2 separate regions of the Homo sapiens genome follow, and region 2 is linked to region 1. The links come from fine-mapping of genetic effects on gene expression. A gene starts in region 1. The other region holds a variant in brackets. All regions are shown on one strand. Distances are between the middles of the regions.

Evidence for each region. PIP is the estimated chance that this variant, and not a neighbour inherited with it, causes the effect.
Region 2: its variant is fine-mapped to the expression of AK4 in whole blood (INTERVAL, PIP 0.91).

Annotation. Positions count from the first base shown.
Region 1 is chr1:65,142,527-65,154,614 of GRCh38, forward strand. AK4 (adenylate kinase 4) reads left to right here and starts at 5,677. Exons shown (of 5, transcript NM_013410.4): 1 at 5,677-6,026. The coding sequence starts at 5,882. It also overlaps the pseudogene RPS29P7. RefSeq lists silencers at 4,844-5,083, 5,094-5,593, 5,974-6,273, 6,334-6,613 and enhancers at 6,207-6,925, 6,926-7,644, 9,235-9,284, 10,998-11,499.
Region 2 is chr1:65,172,545-65,184,632 of GRCh38, forward strand. The region is part of intron 1 of AK4 (adenylate kinase 4); the gene reads left to right. Among named protein-coding and RNA genes, the nearest start is that of AK4, 30 kb to the left of the region's middle. The variant T/C (reference allele first, on the strand shown) is at 5,959.

The DNA.
Region 1 (12,088 bases):
AAATTGTGATACATGACAATGATGGAGAGATGTGGTAGCTGGAACAATGGGGGTTTGAATTTAGAGGTGAGGTCAGTGTCGTGCCTGTGAACTGTGGTTCGGGTGATATTTTTAATCATAGCATTACAAAAATCTGGTGAGTCATATTAAATTAAGTTTCAAAGGTATACTTCGAGGTACATTAGATTATGTGCAATGTATTACCGATAGTGGAGGAGATAGTTTGATGTGGTACTAGAAATTATTCAAAGTGGTACGTGGTCTGAGGCCCAGCATGGTGGCTCACACCTCTAATCACAGCCCTTTGGGAGTCCCAGGCGGGTGGAGTAGCTTGCACTCAGGAGTTCCAGGCCAGCCTGGGCAACATGGCAAGACCCCCGTCTCTACTAAAAATACAAAAAATAAAAAATAAAAAAAAATTGCTGGGTGTGGTGGCACACGCCTGTAGTCCCAGGTACTCGAGAGGCTGAGGTGGGAGGATTGCCTGAGCCTGGGAGGCAGATGCTGCAGTGAGCCAAAATCACCCCACTGCACTCCAGCCTGAGTGACAGAGCAAGACTCCATATATAAAAAAAATTAAACTGAATATTAGAAAGTACTCCCTGTCTTATTTTCAGCCATGTGATTTCAGTTAAGCAGAGTCTCATGTAGATGCTGTATGTCTTAAACACCTTTTAACACTTGGTAAACAAACTCTCCGACCCTCATCCCACCCTGCTTGGCTCTGTTTTTTTTGTTTTTTGTTTTTTGTTTTTGTTTTTTTTTTATTTAGACAAAGATTAAGCTCAGAAAATCAACAGGTGGTAGATTCCAGCTGGTATTTGGTATCTTATTTGATTTTTCTTGTATTTATTTCAGTGTATCCTTTTACTTATGGTTAGTGAGTTATTATTATATAAAATTTCTTTTTCAAATTTATTTATTTATTTATTTATTTATTTATTTATTTATTTATTTTTGAGACAGAGTCTCACTTTGCCACCCAGGCTAGAGTGCAGTGGCGCGATCTTGGCTCACTGCAACCTCCGCCTCTTGGGTTCAAGGGATTCTCCTGCCTCAGCCTCCTGAGTAGCTGGGATTACAGGCTTGCGCCACAACGCCCAGCTAATTTTTGTATTTTTAATAGAGATGGGGTTTCACCATGTTGGCCAAGCTGGTTTTAAACTCCGGACCTCCATCCGCCTTGGCCTCTCAAAGCGCTGAGATTACAGGAATGAGCCACTGCACTCAGCCTCAGATCAATTATTTAAACAAACTCAGTCAATATAAAAAAAATTAAAAAAACATGATAAGCAAATAACAGCCAAGGTGGTACAATGTTATGGCAAAACTGTAAAAATAGTGTGGAAATAATTGAAGTTTAGAGGAACAAGAGCACTGTGCTCAGAATGAGGAAATCTGATTTGAGGTCCGGCTCCCTTTGTACTATCGTCCCAGGCAGGCAATGCTGCATGGTACTGAGTGTGTTATGAGGGATAGAGACTTGCCAACATTAACAGATTATTACAAAGGGTATATGTTTGAGTACAGAAACCTCAGACTTTATAGTGTTAGAGGGGAGACAAAAACATAAATAGTTGTGTAATAACTCAAAGACTGTGATAAGTATTACAAATGGGTTAAAAACCCTAGACAAAGGAAATAGGAAGAAGTTAATTACCTGAGTGTATGTATATGATAAGAATGGCTATCATTAGGCTGGGCACGGTGGCTCACACCTGTAATCCCAGCACTTTGGGAGGCCGAGGCGGGCGGATCACAAGGTCAGGAGATCGAGACCATCCTGGCTAACACGGTGAAACCCCGTCTCTACTAAAAAAATACAAAAGATTAGCCAGGCGTGGTGGCAGGTGCCTGTAGTCCCAGCTACTCAAGAGGCTGAGGCAGGAGAATGGCGTGAACCCAGGAGGCGGAGCTTGCAGTGAGCTGAGATCGTGCCACTGTATTCCAGCCTGGGCGACAGAGCAAGACTCCATCTCAAAAAAAAAAAAAAAAAAAAAGTGCCAGGGAACTGACTAGGTGCTTTGTTGTATTATCTCATTTATTTCTCACCATTCAGGAACTGGGTTTAGAGAGGCTAAATAATTGACCCATGATTAATACTGGTGATGATGATGTTTACGACTGAATACTTATTGTATGCCCAGCCCTGTACTGAGTCCTTTATATACATGATCTCCATTTAAGCTTCACCACAAGACTCTGAGGTATTATTTTCCTTTTACAGATAAACTAAGGCTCACAGAGATCATGAAATTTGCAGTTAGTGAATGGTGCTGTTGCAATTTGATCTCAGGTGTGTTGGACTCCAAAGTCTGTTTCTTCATCTTCTGCTTCACTTCCAAGTCAGCAGCAGCTGAGCTGAGGGACCATGAGATGGCCATGCACTGGGATGGTCCATTGAGGGCTCTTTTGTGAAATGCGAGGTTCCAATCTTGGTTTCTCTAATGTGTGTCACAACTCTTTGTTTAATAATTTATACTCCTAAAAGCATAAAGTCCTAGAATCATGTGGGTGGCTAGCACTGTTCCATGACACTATAAGGTAATGTTGGTAAAGACATTTCAAAAGTAGACAAAAGAACTAGGTGGTAGGGTAAGGTAGGGCTATAGGATAGCTAGTCTGTGCGGGCTAAAAGCCATATTTCCTGTGGAAAGTTACAGTCAATTCTTAATAGATATGAAGGAATCTTCAGGATGTACTAAATCCAACCTCCTCATTTTACAAAGTAGAGGTTAAGGGCCAAAGGTCATACATTGGCAGAGGAATCAGGACACCACACATCTTGTGTCTCAATGCTCTGTTCACTATGGCAGTGGTTTTCAAGGTGTGGTCTCCAGATCAGCAACCTCAGCATCACCTGGGAACTTGATGGAAATGCCCACCTTCAATCCACTGAATCAGATTCTGTGTGTCAGGCCTCTAGCCCAAGCTAAGCCATCATATCCCCTGTGACCTGCACGTATACATCCAGATGGCCTGAAGCAACTGAAGATCCACAAAAGTGAAAATAGCCTTAACTGATGACATTCCACCACTGTGATTTGTTTCTGCCCCACCCTAACTGATCAATGTACTTTGTAATTCTCCTTACCCTTGAGAATGTACTTTGTGAGATCCACCCGCTGCCCGCAAAACACTGCTCCTAACTCCACCGCCTATCCGAAAATCTATAAGAACTAATGATAATCCCACCACCCTTTCCTGACTCTCTTTTCGGACTCAGCCCGCCGGCACCCAGGTAAAATAAACAGCCTTATTGCTCACACAAAGCCTGTTTGGTGGTCTCTTCACATGGACGTGCGTGGCACTATGCAGGGGGAGCTCAGCAACACGTTTCAACATGCCTTCCAGGTGATTCTGATGCATGCTCACTTCTGAGAGCCACTCCAAAGAAGTATCTGCTACATATTATACACATATACCCCCACCCCCAGACCCGCAAGTTCTTCCTCTTTGTTCCCAGAAAAGGTTTGAAGGGGCTCAGTATCAGGTCTACAGCACACTGAGATTTATTTATTTATTTATTTATTTATCATTTATTTGAGACAGAGTCTCGCCCTGTTTCCGAGGCTGGAGTGCAGTGGCGTGATCTCAGCTCACTGCAACCTCCACCTCCCAGGTTCAAGTGATTCTCTTGCCTCAGCCTCTGGAGTAGTTGGGATTACAGGCGTGCACCACCACACCTGGCTAATCATTCTATTTTTAGTAGAGACGGAGTTTCACCATGTTAGACAGGCTGGTCTCATACTCCTGGCCTCAAGTGATCCGTCTGCCTTGGCCTCCCAAAGTGCTGGGATTACGGGTGTGAGCCACAGCGCCCGGCCACACTGAGACATTTTAGAGGGAGATCAGTCTATGGAACAAATGCTGGCCTGGGGCTGGTGGCCTGGGTGTGCTGTCTGGCCAATTTTGTGCGTGGAGTAAGCAGTGGGGAGAGGCGCTGGGTGTCAGGAAACTATGCCAGGCCCTGCCCTCCACCAACCCCAATCAAAGAGCTGAGAGGGGGTTCTTCTCCACACCATCCCACTACTTGTGTCCCTCACCTTCTCTGAGTCCTGGGTATTGGTGCTGGGAACTCTGCAACAGATTTCCTGAAGGCAGGTGGCCTGTGGAAGGAAGGCAGAGGAGGGGGCCTGCAGAATGCAAAGGTGTACGGAAGGCATCTCTGCGCCCCTGCTGAAGATTTTTCACTTTATCCTGAAGGGAAGACAATATCTGAGGCCGGGAAATAATAAATATTGATTTTCACTTTATCAGTATTCCTGGCAGCTGCACGGAAAATGGAATGGCACAGAAACTGGAGTCTTATGGGCACTTATCCCACTAGTTGGGGTGGGAAATTAAAGGCTGTGTGTAAGGTGGGCACAGATCTAACAGAATGTGGATTGGGATATGCAGGGGAGGGTGGAGTGGGGGAAGACAGACTCCATTTGGACTTGGTGAGTTATAGGTGCAGCACCAGCATAATGCGCATGGAAGTCCTGGAATCATTTACCAAGAAGGTCCTGAACACAGGTGAGGGACATCCCCTTCTTCCCTGTTCCCTAAGGCGCCTAGACTTTGGAGTCAGTCAGTCTTGGGTTCCAGCCTCCCGCTAGGACGCAATTTCTTGAGAGCAGGATTCGATCTGTTGTTCACGGCTAGATCCTAAGCGCCTAGAATAGTTTCTGGCACACAGTAGGCACTCAATAAACATTTGCAGAATGAATCAATGAATGAATGGTCACGCTCCATTCCTCGGCTGTAAACACAATGAAATCACCTAGCCGCAAACTTGGCGCACAGTAGGCGCTCAACAAGTTGTATTTTTCCCTTCCCTTGCAGTAGACCGCGGTCCCCAGGCGACCGCGAAAGAAAAAAAGGGGTTTCTCTACCTCGCGTGGTCTGCACCTCGCTTCGCCCCCGCAGCCCTCGCTGGGTCGCAGGGAGCACGTGGGCCAGGCAGGCTGGGTGGGAGTGGAGTGGAGTGGAGGGGAGGGGGCGGCGGCCAGCGGCTCGCGCGGAGCCGGTCTCCCGGGCTTACGTAAGGCGCGAGTCCCGCGCGGCCGGCCGGGGCTCCGCGACTGGGCGGGCGGAGGCGGCGCCGCCCTGCAGGATCCGGGCTGGAAGCCTCTCGGAGTGCTGCCTCCAGCCAAGGTGTGTGTTTATTTGATTGCTTTTGGTGGCGAGGCGCGGGGCTCGGGCTCGTCGCGCGCCCCATGGCCGGGGAGCGCATCCGCCAACCCCGGGCGGAGGTGGGCCCCTCCGAGCGCGCGCGGGCGGCGGGCAGCGGCGGCAGCTGAGACTCCGGGGGATGTGACAGCCGCCGGGGAGGGGACGAGACGCAGACCACACGTTGCCCACGTGCGAGGACCGGGCAGGGGCTCAGCCCCTAGGCCGCCCGGTGCGTGGGGCGGCGGGGGCTGGCTTTGAGTCACCCCCGCTTGTGCCAGCTTCCCCGGCTCGGCGGAGACTGGCTTGGGGATGCCTGGCCGCCCGGCCCCCTTCTCGGACGCGGCGTGGGGAGCGAGCTGGAGTTAAGGATGAAGGTGGGACTGGCCGGGCCGACCTCTGACCCCTGGAGGCCGAGTCGGCAGGGCGGGGCACGGCGCGCTTCAGCAGCTTTGCGTGGGGGCGAGGAGGTGGAGGAGGGCGAGGAGGTGGAGAAGGGCGGGGAGGTGTAGCGTGGCGCTCAGTCCGCCTGCTACTCGGTCCCGGCGCTGGGCTGAGGGGAGGGGTTGTCTTAAAAGTCTCTCCTTCCCCCTGTAGGGGCGGCCGGCGAGTCCCAGTGAGAGCGGAGGGTGCCAGAGGTAGGGGGCCGAGAAACAAAGTTCCCGGGGCTTCCTCCGGGGCCGCGGTCGGGGCTGCGCGTTTGACCGCCCCCCTCCTCGCGAAGGCAATGGCTTCCAAACTCCTGCGCGCGGTCATCCTCGGGCCGCCCGGCTCGGGCAAGGGCACCGTGTGCCAGAGGATCGCCCAGAACTTTGGTCTCCAGCATCTCTCCAGCGGCCACTTCTTGCGGGAGAACATCAAGGCCAGCACCGGTGAGGGGCTGCGGGGACGAGGGCCGGGGGCGAGCCGCGTTGGGCTGGGGTGAGGCCCTGGAGGGACTGGGGCTCCCGGATCACGGCGCCCTTCCCCCGCCCGCGTGTGGTCGTGCAGGCTCGTACGTGCCGGGGCGCATGCAGCTGGCGGCCGCGCGGCTTAACCGCGCCTGGGGAGGAGGCCGAGGCTCCAGGGGCGGCCGGTGGGAGGTGCCCACGGCTCCTCTCCACCGCTCCTCCTGTCGCGAGGAATAGCCCGAGCCACCCGGCCGAGGGAACGAGAACTAGGCAGGGAAAACCCGGAGCTTCCGTCTCACGCTGCCCTCCTTAAGGCAGAGCCGTCCCCGTACCCCTTAGCCCTGGCCCCCTCCCCCGAGTCCCTAGAGAGCCGCGCGCCCCCTCCCGCGGGAGCCCAGAGGCGGAGCGCCGCCCACCTGTGGCAGTCGGGCGGGGCCGCGCGCCGGGGAACCTGTGGCGCCGGGGGGCTCGCAGCCTCGCGCCTCTCCAGCCCCTCCACGCAGCCTCGGGCCTCGGGGCAGAGCCCTGGGTGGCTTTGAAAGGCCTGTCTGTTCGTTGTCGCCTTCTAAGGTAAACTCTCCCCAGCAACTCCCCCCCCTCCCGAAGCCGCCGGGCCTGGCCGTCAGGAGACTCGGAGGAGACTCGTTCTGATAAATTACATTTTGTAATGCAGCTTTCCTGGAAATGGCTTCTTGAGCTGCCTCCCTTGGCATGAGATGCCTCCTTTGGCTGGCGTGGTGAACTTGGGGATATATAGATCGCCTGATTTCTTAGTCTGACGGGGTTGAGTGCGTCCCTTTCCCCCTCTCCTCCCACTCCACGTTCACACCAGTTCCGAAAGAATTGGCGTTAAAAGGCGAGAGGTAGCGGTTGTGCTGCTGCGAGGCTCTTAACCCTTCTGGGATGGAGATGCTGGTAATTAGCAACTCCTTTATGAAAAGTTGTTCTTCCCAGCAGGGGTCCTTTACTGTCGATGTACTTCTCAAGGATGTCCGGGCTGGTTATTGCCCATCATGGACTAATTATCCGGAGATCTGCATTTCAGAAGCACAGACTGGCTTGAAAAGGAAGGTGGAGGACAGTACCAGAAAACAAAAGGAAAGCTTAAAAGCAAGGAATTAAGAAGTATCTCCAGAATTGTATTCCTTATCTCTTAAGCAGATTGAAAAAGCGGACTTTTACAGGAAACTCTTCCCCCACCCCCATGTCTCAAAAGGAAGAATTATGTGTACCAGATTGCACTTGAGTTTTCTGTTGTGGGTATTGTTACCTCAAGTGCGCCTATTTTGATTTTAATACATTCACATGCATTTTATTCTTGAAATGCTGCGGTTTGAGGGGAGAGCGGCCTGAGGGGGAAGGCTGGCTCTCATCCTAATGGTTTTGTGTTTAGGTTGGGCTTCTTCATGGTAGGGGCATGGAGTCAGTGAAGGAAGACAGTGAGAAGAGATGAGCCCATTCCATAATTCTCTGTACCTGACTAGGAGACTTGTTTCCTTCTATGAGCCCATTCCATAATTCTCTGTACCTTACTTGGTGACTTGTTTCCTTCTGGAATGAAGGGCTTCACACTGTCCATCCTGGGACTGGACTCATAGCCCTTTCCATGTTTAAAGAGAGTGTGATGGGAAGTAGCTTATTTCTGCACTTTCTTAGGGGCTTTGAAAATTTTCCATTTGCTCTTTTCCCTTGTTCTCTCTTTCTCTCTCTCTCTCTTTTTTTTTTTTAACTTTCCTGTGTTCTAAATTTTAGTTTTCATTCTCTTTCAAATGCCTTCATTTCCTCCCCAGTGATCCTCCCTGGAGTGAGAAATGACTATGAAATGTTTAGATTTTCTTTTTTCTGTTGGGAATCAAGCAGCTTTTTGCATGAGCCAATTAAAAAAAAAACTTTATCAAAGAAAGAAGAAAAATAAAGGACAGCAATTTGTTTTGAAAGTGGCTTGTTTCTAGTGAACTTTCGGGTTATCGGATTATTTTTCCCTCTCAGAAGGTCTGAGAATCTTATAGGCTTACTGCCTGGTAAATAAAACATTCCTTTCCACGGTATTTATTTTTCTGTCTGTTACCTGCTGTTTGCTTTTAGCTGATTTCCTGGTGGGAAACACAACCACCCTTCTGTATGTACCCTTTATAATGGAAGGTTTGAAGGAGACGATGAAGCACAACAAAAACCCAGGAAATAGAACCGTGTAGGAATTTGAATTGGAAAGTAGCTCCGGCCATCTGCTCCAGCCTGGATTTGGGCACACTCTTGTCTACATGGCTTTCCTCCTCCTGCAGCCTGGTGAAAAGCTGCTCTTTCAGGAAAGGGCCATTCTGATGTCATTGCTTCTTGGAAGTCTTCCCTCACCTGCTCTGGCAGAATTCATCTCTTTCCTCTGCACATAACTTTTTTTTTTTGAGACGAGTCTCGTTCTGTCACCCACACCGGAGTTCAGTGGCGCTATCTCGGCTCGCTGCAACCTCTGCCTCCCGGGTTCAAGCGATTCTCTTGCTTCAGCCTCCCAAGTAGCTGGGATTACAGGCGTCTGCCACCACGCCCGGCTAATTTTTGTATTTTTCGTAGAGATAGGGTTTCACCATCTCTACGAAGGTTCGAGGTCAGGCTGGTCGCGAACTCGGGACCTTAGATGATCCACCCGTCTTGGCCTCCCAAAGTGCTGGGATTACAAATGTGAGCCACCGCACCTGACCTCCTCTCCTCTGCACATGTCTTATTGATTCTAATGTTGCAGTCATATATCATGCAGTGTAAAAATGCCTGTCTCACACCCAGTAAGATATCTGCTGAGTGGCTGCTGTGCGTCAATGTTCTAGGTGCTGGGGGCAATAGCATTAAGATAATCTTGTGCCTCTTTTATTATTATTTATAGATAGGGGTTTTGCTTTAGTGCCCAGGCTGGTCTCAAACTCTTGGCTCAGTCTCCCAAAATGTTGGGATTACAGGTGTGAGCCACTGCACCTGGCCCATTCTTGGGCCTTTTGTTCTTTCTGCCTATACCATTGTACAATTTCCACTCTGAAACTTGGAGGACAGGGATCAGGCAAAGTACCTAATGTATAAAAGGAGCTTACCGAGTCTGTATTAAAGGCCTGGGTCACAAATTCTAGACAGTACATCTTAGTCCAGAAGTCAAGCAACCTATAGCATAGAGACCATTTTGTTTAATTAGCTCTGATTTATGGTAAAAGTTTGTGCTTAATATGGATCTGAGATTAGCTTCATGGTAGCTGTCACCCATTGGCCCTTCCTACACTGCCTAGAGTGGTACAGGCTGAGGCTTATCAGATACCTCATTTGAAGAGTCACACCCATATCTTTGGCTCAGATTTTCTTTAGCACACTGCAAGAGTAAATAGAAGGGAGAGTTCTCTTAGATTGCCAGGAGTTGGGTCTTACCCTCTGTTGTAAGAAATATTAGCTTTTCTCTGTGTATGTATGGGTATGCACATGTATGTATGAGTATACACACACACACAGGGACTGGCACTCTATTGAGTGAGTCCTACTACAAACTCTGAACAAATTCTGATATTTAATGATAGATTCTTTTATTGGGTCATATCTAAAGGATATGCAAATCCTGTTTTAAAGGTTGGAGAAATAGTGGTATTTTTTAAAACCACATTATACTGGATCTACTATCTCAAGTGCAGGAAAACTGGCACATCTCCATTTGGAAGCATCTTGGAGTTAATTGAGATAAAAGATGTTAAGGAACAAACCTGTTTCTGCACTTGCTATCTCTCTCTCTCTCTCTCTCTCTCTCTCTCTCTCTCTCTCTCTCTATATATATATATATATATATATATTTTTTTTTTTTTTTTTTTTTTTTTTTTTTTTTTTTGAGCCGGAGTCTCACTCTGTCACCCAGGCCGGAGTGCAGTGGCACAGTCTCGGCTCACTGCAGCCTCCGCCTCCCAGGTTCAAGCGATTCTTCTGCCTCAGCCTCCCGAGTAGCTGGGACTACAGGCACACACCACCACGTGTGGCTATTTTTGTATTTTTGGTGGAGATGGGGTTTCACCATTTGGCCAGGCTGGTCTTGAACTCCTGACCTCATGATCTGCCTGCCTCGGCCTCCCAAAGTGCTGGGATTACAGGCGTGAGCCACCGCACCTGGCCTCTGCTTCTCAATATTAACTGCAGCTCTTGCTGGAGTTTTGCTGATGGGACTAGCATTTCAAGTTAGTCTATGGGCCCAGCCTCTTTTTGAAAAGATGGCCTAGTTCAGAGGGCTCAGGGTTCTTTTTGGTGCTCATTAAGTATAAATGTGTGTCTTATGTAAGAGGGAAAACTTCTGAGAACTGGAAGATAGAAACATTGTATTAGAGAGACTTGGGAGCCAGAGTTCAACAATGTATCTAAAACAGGTTTCAATAGTTATCCTTTTTATAGATCATACAGAGTCTTGGCTTATTACAGGGTTTCTAGAGTATGTTCTATTCCATTTCCCCCCCTAGCTGGGTGAGACTCAGGATGTAGCACAGGTCAAGCAAGGGTCTGACTGGTTTTGAGACCTCTCCAGTCCAAAGGTCCACTCCATATCCACTTATTGTTGCTTTTTTGGTTTCTTTGAGGATTTTCACACATATTTGAAGAACACTATTTGTGACTTGAATAAGGCATTCCATGACAGTAAGTCTGCCTTAGCCACATGTACATCTGAATCTTTGCACATTCTTCCAGTGGGATTTTTTTTCTTCTTCTTTTTGAGACATAGTTTCACTCTGTGACCTAGGCTGGAGTGCAGTGGCATGAACACGGCTTACTGTGGCCTTGATTTCCCGGGCTCAAGTGATTGTCTTACCTCAGCCCCTTAAGTAGCTGGGGCTACAGGCATGCACCACCATGCCCGGATAATTTCGTATTTTTTTGGTAGAGTTAGGGTTTCTACGTGTTGCCCAGGCTGGTCTTGAACCCCTTAGTTCAGGCAGTCTGCCCGCCTCGGCCTCCCAAAATGCTGAGATTACAGGTGTGAGTCACCATGCCTGGCCAGGATCATTTTTTAGAAGTAGTTTTTTCTGATCAAAGTCATGCCTTGTACAAAATTTAGAAAATATAAAACGGTAGAAGAAATGAAAGCAGCAAGTAAAAGTTACCCTTAATTCCTTAAGGGTAATTTAAGCAAATAAATTAAAGGTGACTGTCTTAGGTTGTGTGATTAGGGAAGGCCTCTCCAGGAGGTGAATGTCCTCATTCATACCGTAAACAATGAGCTTGTGATGATTAGGAACAGGTTGTTCCAGGAAGAAGGAACAGCAAGTGCAAAGGCCCTAAGGTGGGAATTAGCATAGCGTGTCTGAGGAACAGAAAGAAGTGGCAGTATGTTTGGAGCCTAGCAAGTAGAAGGGATGTGGAAGTAGGTCAGGTCAGAGAGACGAGCAGGTGCCAGATCAGGTAGAGCCTGGGGGATCCTGGTAAGGATTGGATTTTATTCCAAGGGCACTGGAAAGCCAAGGAAGGGTTTTCCATAGGACAATGACATGAAAAGATTTACTTTCTAAAAGTTGATCTTTTGCCTGCTGTGTGGAGAGGTGACTCAGGTGAGCAAGAGGGAGACCAGTATGGATGAGGAGAGTGGCCTGTGGTTTGAACTTGTTGGTGGCAAAGGAGGAGAGAAATAAAGGGATTTGGGATATATATGAAGGCAGAGCTGACTGGATATAATGAATTGGTTGTGAGAGGTGATGGAGAGAAAGAAGTCTACAATGAATCCTAGGGTTTTGCCCTGAGCGCCTGCCTGGGTGAATGTGCTATAGGGTTGAATGAACTAGAATGTGTCTAACCAATCTTTTGTGGAACATTTGGGTTATTTGCATACTTTGCTGATTAAGAATGCCCTTGGAAGAGCACATGCATGGGCTAGCTCCTTCCTTTTATCTTGTTGCACTCCTGACAGCAAGATGGGTCACCAGCAGCTGTACTGGAGCCACTGCTGAAAATTCAGCCAGGGTTCTCGCTCTTGTCGCGTCTGTTCAAACCGGCACTGTCTGATCCAGAAATGTGGCCTCAATACGTGCTGCCAGTGTTTCCGTCAG
Region 2 (12,088 bases), 30 kb after region 1:
ACTTGGGTATAGAATAAGCTTACGAATGGAAATCAGGGGCCTGATGCACTACAGGCGGTTTGATTTATGACGGAAACATCCTCAGATATCCAGGAACTCATATATTGGAATAGAGACAACTGTGGGAATAGATTGTCCTACCCAGAAAGCAAAATCTGGCAGAGTTTGAGGTTTCTTATTGGGTAATTTTATCAGCTCGTTCTTAGATTAATTAGTAGAATAAGACTTCCAGAGTTGCAAGATGAAATGCGATGCTTTCTTCTCTTCTTCTTCGCTATTTCTACTTCTGGGCCATCTTGGCCAGCAAGAGATTTTTTTTTTTTTTTTTTTTTTTTTGATACGAACTCTCGCTCTGTTGCCCAGGCTGGAGTGCAATGACATGATCTGTGCTCACTGCAACCTCCACTTTCCGAGTTCAAGCGATTCTCCTGTCTCAACCTCTCAGGTAGCTGGGATTGCAGGCATGTGCCACCAAGCCTGGCTAATTTTCTGCATTTTTAGTGGAGACAGGGTTTCACCACGTTGGCTAGGCTGGTCTTGAATGCCTGACCTCAAGTGATCCACCTGACTTGGCCTCCCAAAGTGCTGGGATTGCAGGCGTGAGTCACTGCGCCCGGCCTAGCAAGAGATTTTTGAACCACAAGTCTTGGTCGTCAGTATTGAATCATTATGGTGTGTGGCATGGTAGTGGCTGCACCATGTTGGAGTAAATGTGTTCTCATGGTGGGGGATATTAGTGACCCTGGGTAACAGTCCATGGCACTTGGCTTGCACCACAGAGTTAACATACAGCAGATCAGCTGTCCCTGTCCTCCAGCTTTATATACCGAATTAGAAAGACTTGGGCCCTCATCCTTTACTCAGTGGCTTCCCGGCACTCCACACCACATCTCTAATACTGGGTATTTTCTCTGGTCACCTCTTCCTCAGATTGCATACTTCCCTGTAATTTTTCACTTCTGCGTTTCAGTCTTTCCTTGGAAAGGCTGCCCTTTCTGTATGACTTCATCCCATGTTGGACCCGACCCTCCTTCTTTCCTTCTCCCAAAGCACTACTCATACCTGTAATCCCAGCACTGTGGGAGGCCAAGGTGGGCAGATCGCTTGTGCTCAGGAGTTCGAGCCTGGGCGGCATGGTGGAACCTCATCTCTACAAAATACAAAAATAATTAGCCAGGCGTGGTAGCGCACGCCTGTAGCCACAGCTGCTTAGGAGACTGAGGTGGCAGGATCCCCTAAACCCGGGAAGCTGAGGATGCAGTGAGGCATAATTGTGCCACTGTACTCCAGTCTGGGTGACAAAGGGAGACCCTGTCTCAAAAAAAAAAAAATAGACTACTTAGCTGAGGTGGTTGTATTAAGGTTTGGGGTGATGGGGATTAGAGTCTGGCACAAGGAAGTTGACATGGCATGTTAGACACCGGTGTCCTAAAAACCTATCAGCCATTCCCCACACACCCCTTCAGCCACTGCCTGCCCCTCCCCTGGCTTAGGTTCAGCTCACTGATTTCTTGCTCTTTTCCCTTCTGGAGAGTCTGCTCTTTTTCTGTTCCTCAGCTTTCAATCCTCCAATACCAGAAGGATTTGGCTTTCTAATCCAGAATAGTTTCCCTCTTCACCCTCAACCCCCCAAATAAACCCTAGCCTTACCTTTATTGATCCAAAAACTCATTAGTTTTTCCTGAATGAAGGGCCCAGAGCAAAGCATAGGCAGATGTTTTGACACTCTAGTTGTTTTTTTTTTAACCTGATTAAATTTTTAGATGAAGTTTATTTTCCCCCAAGTCTCTCTAAGAATACAAGGAACTCGTTTTCTTAATTCAGAGACTGAGTTTTCTTAATTTTCTTTCTTAAATTCAGAGACCGAATTTCCCTTTGGCAAAGACAGATCCTCGAGTGTCAGGACTTATTATTATTTTTTTCTTGGCTACAATTTGCCTTCTTTTTTCTTTTAACATACCTCATTTACTCACTTAATTTAAAAAATACTGTTGGGATCCTTTGCTCCCTGAGCCTTTGTTTAAGTCACTGAGCTCAACAAGACCTGCCCTTGAGGTGTTCTCAGTTCACAAGGGGAAAGGGGAAAGGGACAGATGGTTGAACAAAGAATTACGGTGTGAGAGAAATTGCTTGAGGAAGTGAGCAAAGGCTTTGGACACAGGGTCTAGGGAGCTACTTGCTGTAGGGCATGTGTTAAGAGTTCAGGCTTTGGAACCACATTGACTGGGAAGCCAGCCAGGCAAGTTACTCAAACACTTTCTATTTCTTCAACCACAAACCAAGAATAATAATGGTACTACTTCATACGGTTGTTGTAAGAATTAATTGAGATAATACGTACAAGGGAGTATAGAAAGACTTGACCCAATATTTGCTTATTTATTTTTTCTTTTTAAAATTTTTATGGATATCTATTTTTAATGTGCTCCATGGTAGGAATTAGCTTAATCCTGCAATTAAGTGAAACACATTTTAAGAATGTATAATATTTTCTCTTTTTGTGTGCCACTTTTTATTTTAAACAACCAAAATAGTGGTCATGACCTTCATTTGACAACCCCTGGTCCAGTACTTCCTAAGTGTTTCATTACTGTTGCCACTGGTATCGTTGTTCTTGCTGGCTGTTGAAGGATGATTGTGTGTTGGCCCGCTCAGTGGACTGCTTGTCCTTGCTGATTGCTGAGGAGGTCCTGTCAGAAGAGTGTCCGCATCAGCTCTCCCTGTTCCCGTTTCCCTTCCGGAGGTTGCTGAGCAGCACACATTTTTGGAGCCCTTGCTGTAGTTCTCCAACAGGGCATTGCCAGAGTTACTACAGAGAGAGAGAGGGAAGACTCTCATGGGCAGCAGTAGCAATCCATCCTGTGTGAGCAGATGGCACTGGAGAATAGCAGCCTTGCTTCTGCTGAGCTGCAGCCAAGATCCTGTTCAGAGAGGCAGCCAACAAGGTGCATGGCACAGCCGGATAGATTCACACTCTGGGCCTTGTGCAATGGCAAGGAATTACTATTTGTGTTGCTTTAAAAGTGACATTCCTCCTTATCCTCTGAATGCGTCTAGTACTTGGGCTGTGCTCAGGTTACAGGGAGGCTGTTCTATGGTTTTTACAGAGTAAGAAAATCCAGAGGGCCCCTGAGATTTCCAATGTAATCCTACTCTGTAGGGCTGAAAGTGCCTGCTATGGTGGATACCAAGGCAGATTTCCAGAACATGAGCTTGAGGAGACGGTTAAACATTCTGGGTTTAAAACTCTTCTGTGATTTTGGCAAATCTTTCAGATTACTTGCCGTTTTCCTATTTGCTCCCTTGCCCAACTTCTGTTGCATTCATCCCAATCTGCTTTTCTCCTCCGCTGCTTATATAAAGCCGCGTGTGGTATTACACCAGATGTTCATGGTGTGTTTATGAATGCATGTGTTCCTATCCCGGGCCAAGAAAATACACTTGACATAGGACGTCCAAAATTTTTTGGCTTATGAAGCTCCAGTATCTTTTACTTTCACTACTTATTTAATTTTAAAAGAAGGTTACTGTACTGTTTTATTCTTTGAATAAATATGAAGGGTGAAATAATAATTGATCTGCTGGCGGAATGAGAAAGCCTAAGGAGGAAGAATTGTCTGGATATCCTTTGTGCTTAGAGATTGGATCACCTTCTTTTTCAGTAATGCCAGCCCCTCCCCTACCCAAAGTCATGGCTGTTGTCCATGCATCTTTTTATCTTGGCTATTATAGAAGCATACCCACTGCCAACACATTTCTGGACCCTGGGTACAAAATTAGACTAAGTGAATATAAATATCCAGTCTGGCTAGAGAGAAAAGAGTGAAGAGGCCTCATGAAGCATTGGCCCTTATTCTCAGGAAGCGTTCTAGGGAAAGTATGGTAGAAAGAACACTAAATGATGATTCAGGCCTGAGTTCCCATCCCGACTCCACCTCTCACGTTTAGAACGGGCATAATGATCAGTTGATTTCGCTGCCCGTGAATGCCGGGAGACTCTCCTTAGTCTGTAAAGTCCCCTCCTCACCACAGAGATGGAACCTCTGTGGTTTAAGGAAAGCTGGTGTGGGGAGGCTAGTCCTCTACCCTTCACACAAGCCTCCAAATGCAGGGAGTTGAAGTGCCACCACAGAGATAGCAGAGGTCGAACGGTCTACCTCTCTCTTGCAGATGAGGAAACTTGAGGCCACGATAAGTGAAATACATTGCTGTGTTGAGAGTCCTGTGGGCAGTGAGCTGAAAGCAGAACAAAGAGCTGGGACTCCTGATTCCCAGCCTGGCAGTAGTAGTTCCTGGTGTCATATTTGCCATTGCCTCAGTATGAAGCCATTCCAGTATTTCAGTGTTTTTAAAAAGGTATTGTCCCTTGATAAAATGCAGATGTCAGGAAATAAATCACATTACAAATTCTTTCATTTTTAATCTCACAATTAGTGATTAAGAGATGCATATTTGTACTTTCGAGCTCAAATCTAGGTTAAATAATTTTTCATTTTACTATTAATCTGCTTTTGACTTAGGTGATAATCGATTGTGCAGATCACAGATTTGAGTAATGTTGGCTACAACTTCCTTTGGTTGAAGACCAACAATAATTGCCGCTATCATGAGCTAAATATTGCAGACTAAATGACAAAGGAAAGGTATTGAAGACGGGTGTATTCCATATGAGGTCTCTTTTTCCCTCAGAGACCAGTGACTAATATGCCACGAGCATATTAGTCTAATATCCAAAGGAACAAAAATGAGTAGGATTATAGTCTTTACAGTTTCAAAGTTTTAAAAATTATATTAAATAAGTTATAAACCTGTCTTTGTTGTCTTCTTTAGGAATAGCTTACAAATCCCTGCTGGCTTGGGATTTATTAGGACACTTTTAGGGTAAAATTTATCTGTGTCACACAGACACCCAGAGGAGATGGCACAAAGAGAAGCAGTTGAGTTTTGTTGGTGAAGCCTTGTACAACCTTCCTTGAGGTGACTTCCGCGTACCTATATGTTAAAAACGGTAAATTGTTTCCTTAATGCTAAACTTCCTGCTGCTTCTGTCAGAGAATACTTTGGAATCCTAATCTCAGAAATCTTTCAGAGTTGACTCATGCATTTTGTGGGTGTTTAAGAATGTCAGATAGCTTCAGGAGGAGCAAGCATCCACTTGTTGGGAACAGACCCTTCCTTGTTAAGAGATCAGGCTTGGGATCCAAACACAACCTGTGGTAATGATCTTTCTGCACCAATTTGTGTAGACTGAAGCAACGGTTGTGAGAACCAAGGGCAACATGCACCAAATGTCCACTTATGTAGTCTAATCAGGTAAGAGAATGCTTTGCTTAATTCAGTAATTTTCCTCAGTTATTCAAGGCTTGCCAAAGAATCAGACTATAAGATAGCATTTAAAAAAAAAAAACATTGCTGCACATGATGTTTCATTTGTTGAGAAGGGTTTTCTGAGTCTTAATTGCCTGAAAGTCATGACCGTGGCTGTCAGGGGTGAACGATACAAAAAGTAAGGTATGGTAAAGGGTGTAATGAGAAGTTCATCTAATAATTTGTAGGGTCCTGTGGATGGGAAGGTGGAAGAGTTCAAAGGTATGATAATTCTTCATCTCAAGTAGAGTGGCTCTTGCTTGACTGTTAAGATAGCCTCTGGCCTCAAGGGGATTATAATCTGCTCTGGAGGATTTGTAAACAATGTCTGTTCCACTGGAGGAGTGAAATGTCAGGTAAAGGTACAAGGCCACTGCATATGATTGTACAAATCGTGGCCTGTTGAGGGGAACCTGGCTAAGGGGTGTGTGAGGCCTGTAGTCCAACCCTGGTTCTGCCCACCGAGCTGTGTTCTCCGGCACACGGCTGAGTCTGCCTGGAGAAATGAGCATCTTGAAATGTGTGCATAGCCACAATGTGTTTACTCAGCTGGGGGCCCACAGGGCTGCCTCTTCCCAAAGGGAACACCTC[T/C]GTAGTACAGACACCGAATGAACTAACTTTAGCCCATGTGCTGGTAGATTACAGAAGGGGGGATTAACTCTCAAGGTAAGATAGGAGAAAAATGATCAGGGAAAGCTTCTTAGAGGAACACACAAACTGAAGGGTGTTTCTTCCAGCCAACATTTGCTAGCCCTTCAGAAGCCCAACTCCAGTGTGGGAAGCTTCTTTTGGACCTGAGGTCAGATTGGGGTGTCCACCTCTGTCTTCTGTTCCGTCTTTCCTCCACGAGTCTGTAGATTGCGGGAGGGTAGGAACCACAGTCGCACTTGACTCTGTGCCTGGCACAGACAAGGGGTCAAAGGATGAATGATAAGGAAATGAGGGTGGGAGGTGAGGTTGAGAAGTAGTTTCCAGCTAGATCAGAGAGACCTTGAATGCTATCCTAAGGAGTATTCATCCATGCCATCCTACAAGCCAAGGAACACACTGTGGTGTCAGCAAGGGAGCGACTTGTGCCACCTTGTGTTTTTGGAAGGTCTATCTTGGAGTTGTGTCTAGGATGGATTGGGGGAGGGAGAGGGTCTGGGAGAGAGGAAAGGAAGCTGACTGGTGAGGAGATATGGAATTAAAGGATGCTTATAATTTGGTAGGAAACAGCCACATAGAAACTGAGTTTTTAGTTAGTTAGATACAGTACCTAAAGGAAGCACTGGTTATACAGAGCAGGACCAGGTATTTCCTTACAGTCAGCAGCTCGGTTCTTTAGTAAGAACCTGTCCCTTTTATACAGGTGCTAGTGTCATATTTCAGCAGCATGTATGCTAACATGCAAAGTTGTTTCTGTTCAAGAAAATGCTCACAAACATTGAGAGGCAGTGTGTAGTGGTTAAGAAAATGGACTGGGGCCAACTTGCTTGAAGTTGAGTCTGGGCTGTATGACTTATTAACTCAGTTACTTTGGGCAAGTTACTTAATCTCTCTGTGTTTCAATTTCCTTATCTAAGAAATAGGGAATATTATACCCTAGACTTCATAGATATTTGTGAGCATTTGATGAGTTCATGTATATAAACTTTCTAGAATCGGCCAGGTGTGGTGGCTCATGCCTGTAATCCCGGCACTTTGGGAGGCCCGGGCAGGAGGATCCCTTGAACTCAAGAGTTTGAGACCAACGTGGGTAACATGATGAGACCCCCATCTCTACAAAGAAAAATTAGCCAGGCATGGTGGCATGTGCCTGTAGTCTCAGCTACTCTGGAGGCTGAGGCGGGAGAATCGCTTGAGTCTGGGAGGTCAAGTGTGCAGTGAGCTGTGATCACACCACTGCACTTCAGCCTCGGTGACAAAGTGAGACCCTGTCTCCAAAACAAAAAGAAAAAAGAAATGGTCTAGAACAACCCTTGGCACATAGACACAAATACTTAGTATCTCCATGTTCTTGAATGAAATTTGCAAAGCAGCATCATTCCAAGACCTTTATACATATGTTAATCACATGCAACTTTCAAAACAACCCTAAGTGATATTATTCCCATTTTATTGGTGAGGAAACGGAGGCACAAACTTGACTGAGGCAAAGACATACGTGACAAAAGTCTTATAGCCTTTAAGTGGTGCCAGGATTTGAACTCAGGCAGTCTGGCTCTAAAGCGTATGTACTTGACCAATTATACTGGATTCAGAATTTTCTTTGGGCCAGGTGCTGGGGCTCATGTCTGTAATCCCACCACTTTGGGAGGCTGAGGAAGGAGGATCACTTGAGGTCAGAAGTTCGAGACCAGCCTGGGCAACATGGTAAAACCCCGTGTCTACTAAAAATGCAACAATTAGCTGGGCATGGTGGCATGCACCTGTGTTCCCAGCTACTTAGGAGGCTGAGGTGTTTTCTTCATAGTTACCCATAGCAAGTGTCAGAGAGTGATTTAAAACTGTATTTTTGGTATGAAGGAAAAGAAAGTCAAGCTTTGAACAAATACCAATTGAAAGGTGGATACTGGATGTCTGAAATGAGTCACTTAAGTGCCAAAATGCCTTAAATTTAAGAGTTTCTTCCATGATTTCTGCCTCTAAAGGACTTTGACATCTATTTTTTTAACCAAGGTTTTTTATTTTTTAAAGCTTATTTTCTTACTGGAAGAGATTCAGCAGAGTGATATTAGGGATAACTTATAGAATGAAGTCTTTCTTCACTGTATTTTTTCCCCCAAAGTAGTTATTTCTACTTCAGTGCCAAAATATTCTTACAAGTGGGGAGATAAAGAACTTGCAGCTTGAAGAATTATAAAGCTCTACAGTTCATCTTTGACCAGGCCCCTTGAGATGCGTGTATGTGTGTGCGCAGGTGCGCACACACGTGTGCACTGCCATTATTAGTGATGTTTTGGCGAAGGGATGATACCAGGGTGAGCAAGGCTTCTCCTAGTTCTGTCCCATACATGCAGTCTGATACTTCAGGGTAGAGTGGTCTTACAAGGGAATTGAGCTCATTTACAGGAATCTTACTCTCAGCATTTTCTGTAGAACAATGAAAAGAACATTGAGTAATTATCTCTTTCTGGTGACTTAGCCAGGCATCTTGGGAATTTGCTGTTTTGTGAACATTCGTTCAGCTCTGTCTTGTATATCTAGTTTGCCTTCACTTTATAGACAGTCACAACAAAAAGAGGATACAGATGTGTGGGTGTGTGGGTGCTAGAAACAATAACAATTTTGTATCTCCCACCCAGCCTAAGAAACAGAGTGTTATCAGTACCCCATAGCTCCTTTTTCCATCTCTCTCCTCCAGCACTATCCTGCATCTTGTAATGATTCTCTTGCTTTACCATATACTTTTGTATATGCATGTAGCCATCAACATTATATTGTATAATTGTGTCTGTGTTAGACTTTTTCATAAACCAGCAGGCTCCTAAGCTGTAGAATTAAGCCTTTTTTTTTTTTTTGAGACAGAGTCTCGCTCTGTTGCCCAGACTGGAATGCAATGGCGCTATCTCAGCTCACTGCTACCTCCGCCTCCCAGGTTCAAGGCCTCAGCCTCCCAAGTAGCTGGGACTACAGGCATGTGCCACCATGCCTGGCTAATTTTGGTATTTTTAGCAGAGACGGGGATTCGCCATTGTTGGCCAGGCTGGTCTCAAACTCCTGACCTCAAGTGATCTGCCTGTCTTGGCCTCCCAAAGTGCTGGGATTACAAGTGTGAGTCACAGTGCCCGGCCAGAATTAAGCTTTTATTATTTTTATTTTTGGGTTGTGCCAGTAAATGATAGGAAGCCATTCTTATAACTTGACGTTGTTTTGATAGGCCAAGTTGTCATCTGTTTGATGTCACCTGGCCAAGCAATCTGAAGAAGATCACAGATGACTTCTGATGCCCCCTCCCTTTGTGGTTTCTCTGACACTTAGGGAAATGTGCCACAGCCTGGCACAGAGTAGTTGCTCAGTAAATTTTTTATTTTTTAGAGGCAGGAGTGCCTCTCTCTGTTGCCCAGGCTGGAGTGCAGTGGCGCAGTCATAGCTTGCTGCACCCTGGAACTCCTGGGCTCAAGTGATCCTCCCACTTCAATCTCCAGAGTCGCTGGGACTACAGGTGTGTGCCACCACGCCTGACTAATTTTACATTTTTTATAGAGATGGGGTCTTGTTATTAATATGTTGCCCCAGTTGGTCTCAAACTCCTGGCCTCAAGGGATCATCCCATCTTGACCTCTCAAAGTGTTGGGATTACTGGTGTGAGCTACAACACTCAGTTCAAGGGTACGATGTTTGTATCTTTAGTGCCTTGTGTGGTACCTGGTACATAGACTTGCAGAAAATTTTGGTTGGAGAAGTGGTGTGTTCAGAGAATTTTCAGCTGTGGTTCTGAGTGATTGGAGTGGCTTTGGAATCGAGGTGATGATCTGGGGTGAAACAGGAGTAGCTCTCTCATAGGTTACTGCACAGCTGACTTCTGGCATGTACTTTTCCTTTCCTGTGTCACAAAACACACTTTTCATTGTCCTTATGCTGGCCCCACCTGCGTTACTTATTGAAAAAAGTATATGACAGACAGAAATAAGACATTCAGATAAAAAAAAAAAGACCTCATTTGCCTTTGCTTAAAGTATTAGTAGTTGAGATTTGATCCTGAGAGACTTTCATTCCAGTTGATGGATTTTACCTAACTAAAGTCAATTATTTTGAGGTGTTAATCACCACTTTTATTAAAACAAATCTTTTTGTCTCCAGCGTCAAGAAACTAAGGTAACCTGGTTGGCTTTCTGTAACCCTGGACTAGTATTTTAGAGATAATCTCTTCAATAGTGAAAGGTGGATTGGCTGGCAGATTCATTGTTTGACTAAACGCTTTCATTTAGCTTGTGACCTATAGCCTATTCCTCTTTCATAGTGTATTTATGTAGAACTTTATTGGCAGTGTAAGAGCCTCTATATCTTAATTGTGATAACTACTGACTGTTTAATTTTCTGCCTGACACAGAGTAAAATTCCATGAACTTTTGCTATTGAAAGCTTTTGGTGGATTAGTACCCAATCCCAGTGTTTAAGACTCTGAGCTCTGGAACAGGCCTCATGCTAGATTGATATAGGGCCTGGCACATAGATGCTTAATAAATATTAGCTGAATGAGTATTTTGTGGATTTAAAGAGTATTCAAACCACAAAACTAACCATACCCTATATTGTCAGAGGGAACAGTGTACCTTTTTTTTTCTTCCCATTTCAGGACCAAAATCAGCCTTTTGTATTTTGGATCTTTACATATTTATTTATTTTTTCTTTCCTTTGTTTTATTTTGTTTTGAGTCAGAGTCTTGCTCTGTCGCCCAAGCTGGAGTGAAGTGGCGTTATCTTGGCTCATTGCAACCTCTGCCTCCTGGGTTCAAGTGATTCTCATGCCTCAGCCTCCAGGGTAGCTGGGACTGCAGGTGCACACCATCACGCCCAGCTAATTTTTTGTATTTTTGGGGGTTTTGCCATGTTGGCCAGTCTGGTCTTGAACTCCTGAGCTTGGGCAACCCACCCAACCTTGGCCTCCCAAAGCGCTGGGATTACAGGCGTGAGCCACTGTTCCCGGCCAATATTTCTTTCTTTTTGAGAGTCATTCAGTCCCTGCAGTGTTTATGCTGACTGTCCTGCATATTTAGGGTTGCTGTAGAATGGATTTTGTGCTATATAAATATCCGTGTGTGTGTGTGTGTGTGTGTGTGTGTGTGTGTGTGTGTGTGTATGTATGTGTCTGTGTTCTCATGGTTTTTCTAAAGAAATGTCATCTGCTTATTGGCTCTTCTACTTACAGGTCTTTTCTTTTTAACCAGCCTTAAGATGATGCAGAATGTGAGTCCAACATCCTACTCCTTCAGCAGTTGACAGTGTTTTGGCATATGTGCTGCCCTGAATACAGTGATCTATTTCAGTCTGTTGATATAAATGTGGACAGCTTTAATGTGTAGGAATTGAGGCTAACAAAATATCTTTCCATATCCTGGAAGCATGAATTTTGGAGAGATGACCAACTTAATAGATAGTCTTAAGTTTTGTGTTATCGTATAATTTTAAATGCGGTATTATCTTAATGCACAGTTTAATAGTCTTAAATCCTGAAAATTTGTATATTATCTGATCTAGTTAGAAATTGAAAATATATATTTCTCAAGGTTACCAAGATTATATCTATTTGAATTTAGTAGTGATTGAATGGAATAGGTTGTTAAGATGAATTGCCACAAAATTTATATTGTTGTAAGATATGTAGAACATTGATTTTCTTCTAATATACTTAACATTGTGGATGATACCATCCATCTATCTTTCTCTCTATATGAACACATAATTTTGTTATATATAATGTTTGGAATCTGACACTTCATCTTTCCTTTTCTGAAGAAAGATTTTTTATATGTCGCCTTAATCATTGGTGTTTTGTTTAATCTTATAAACACATGATGGATTTATTTGTTGGTTTGTTGTGAAACTTAAGAAAAAGGCAAAGATAGTGGCCTCTTTGGGGCACCCTATATTTATTACATTTATTTGAAACCTTCCTAGTGTTTTCTGAATTATTTGTGTGTGTGATGTGTGTGTGTGAACACACTCAGGATTCAGAAGCTGTGTGGGACCATGTATGTGTGTCCACAGCCTTTCTTTGGAATACTGCTTCAGAAATT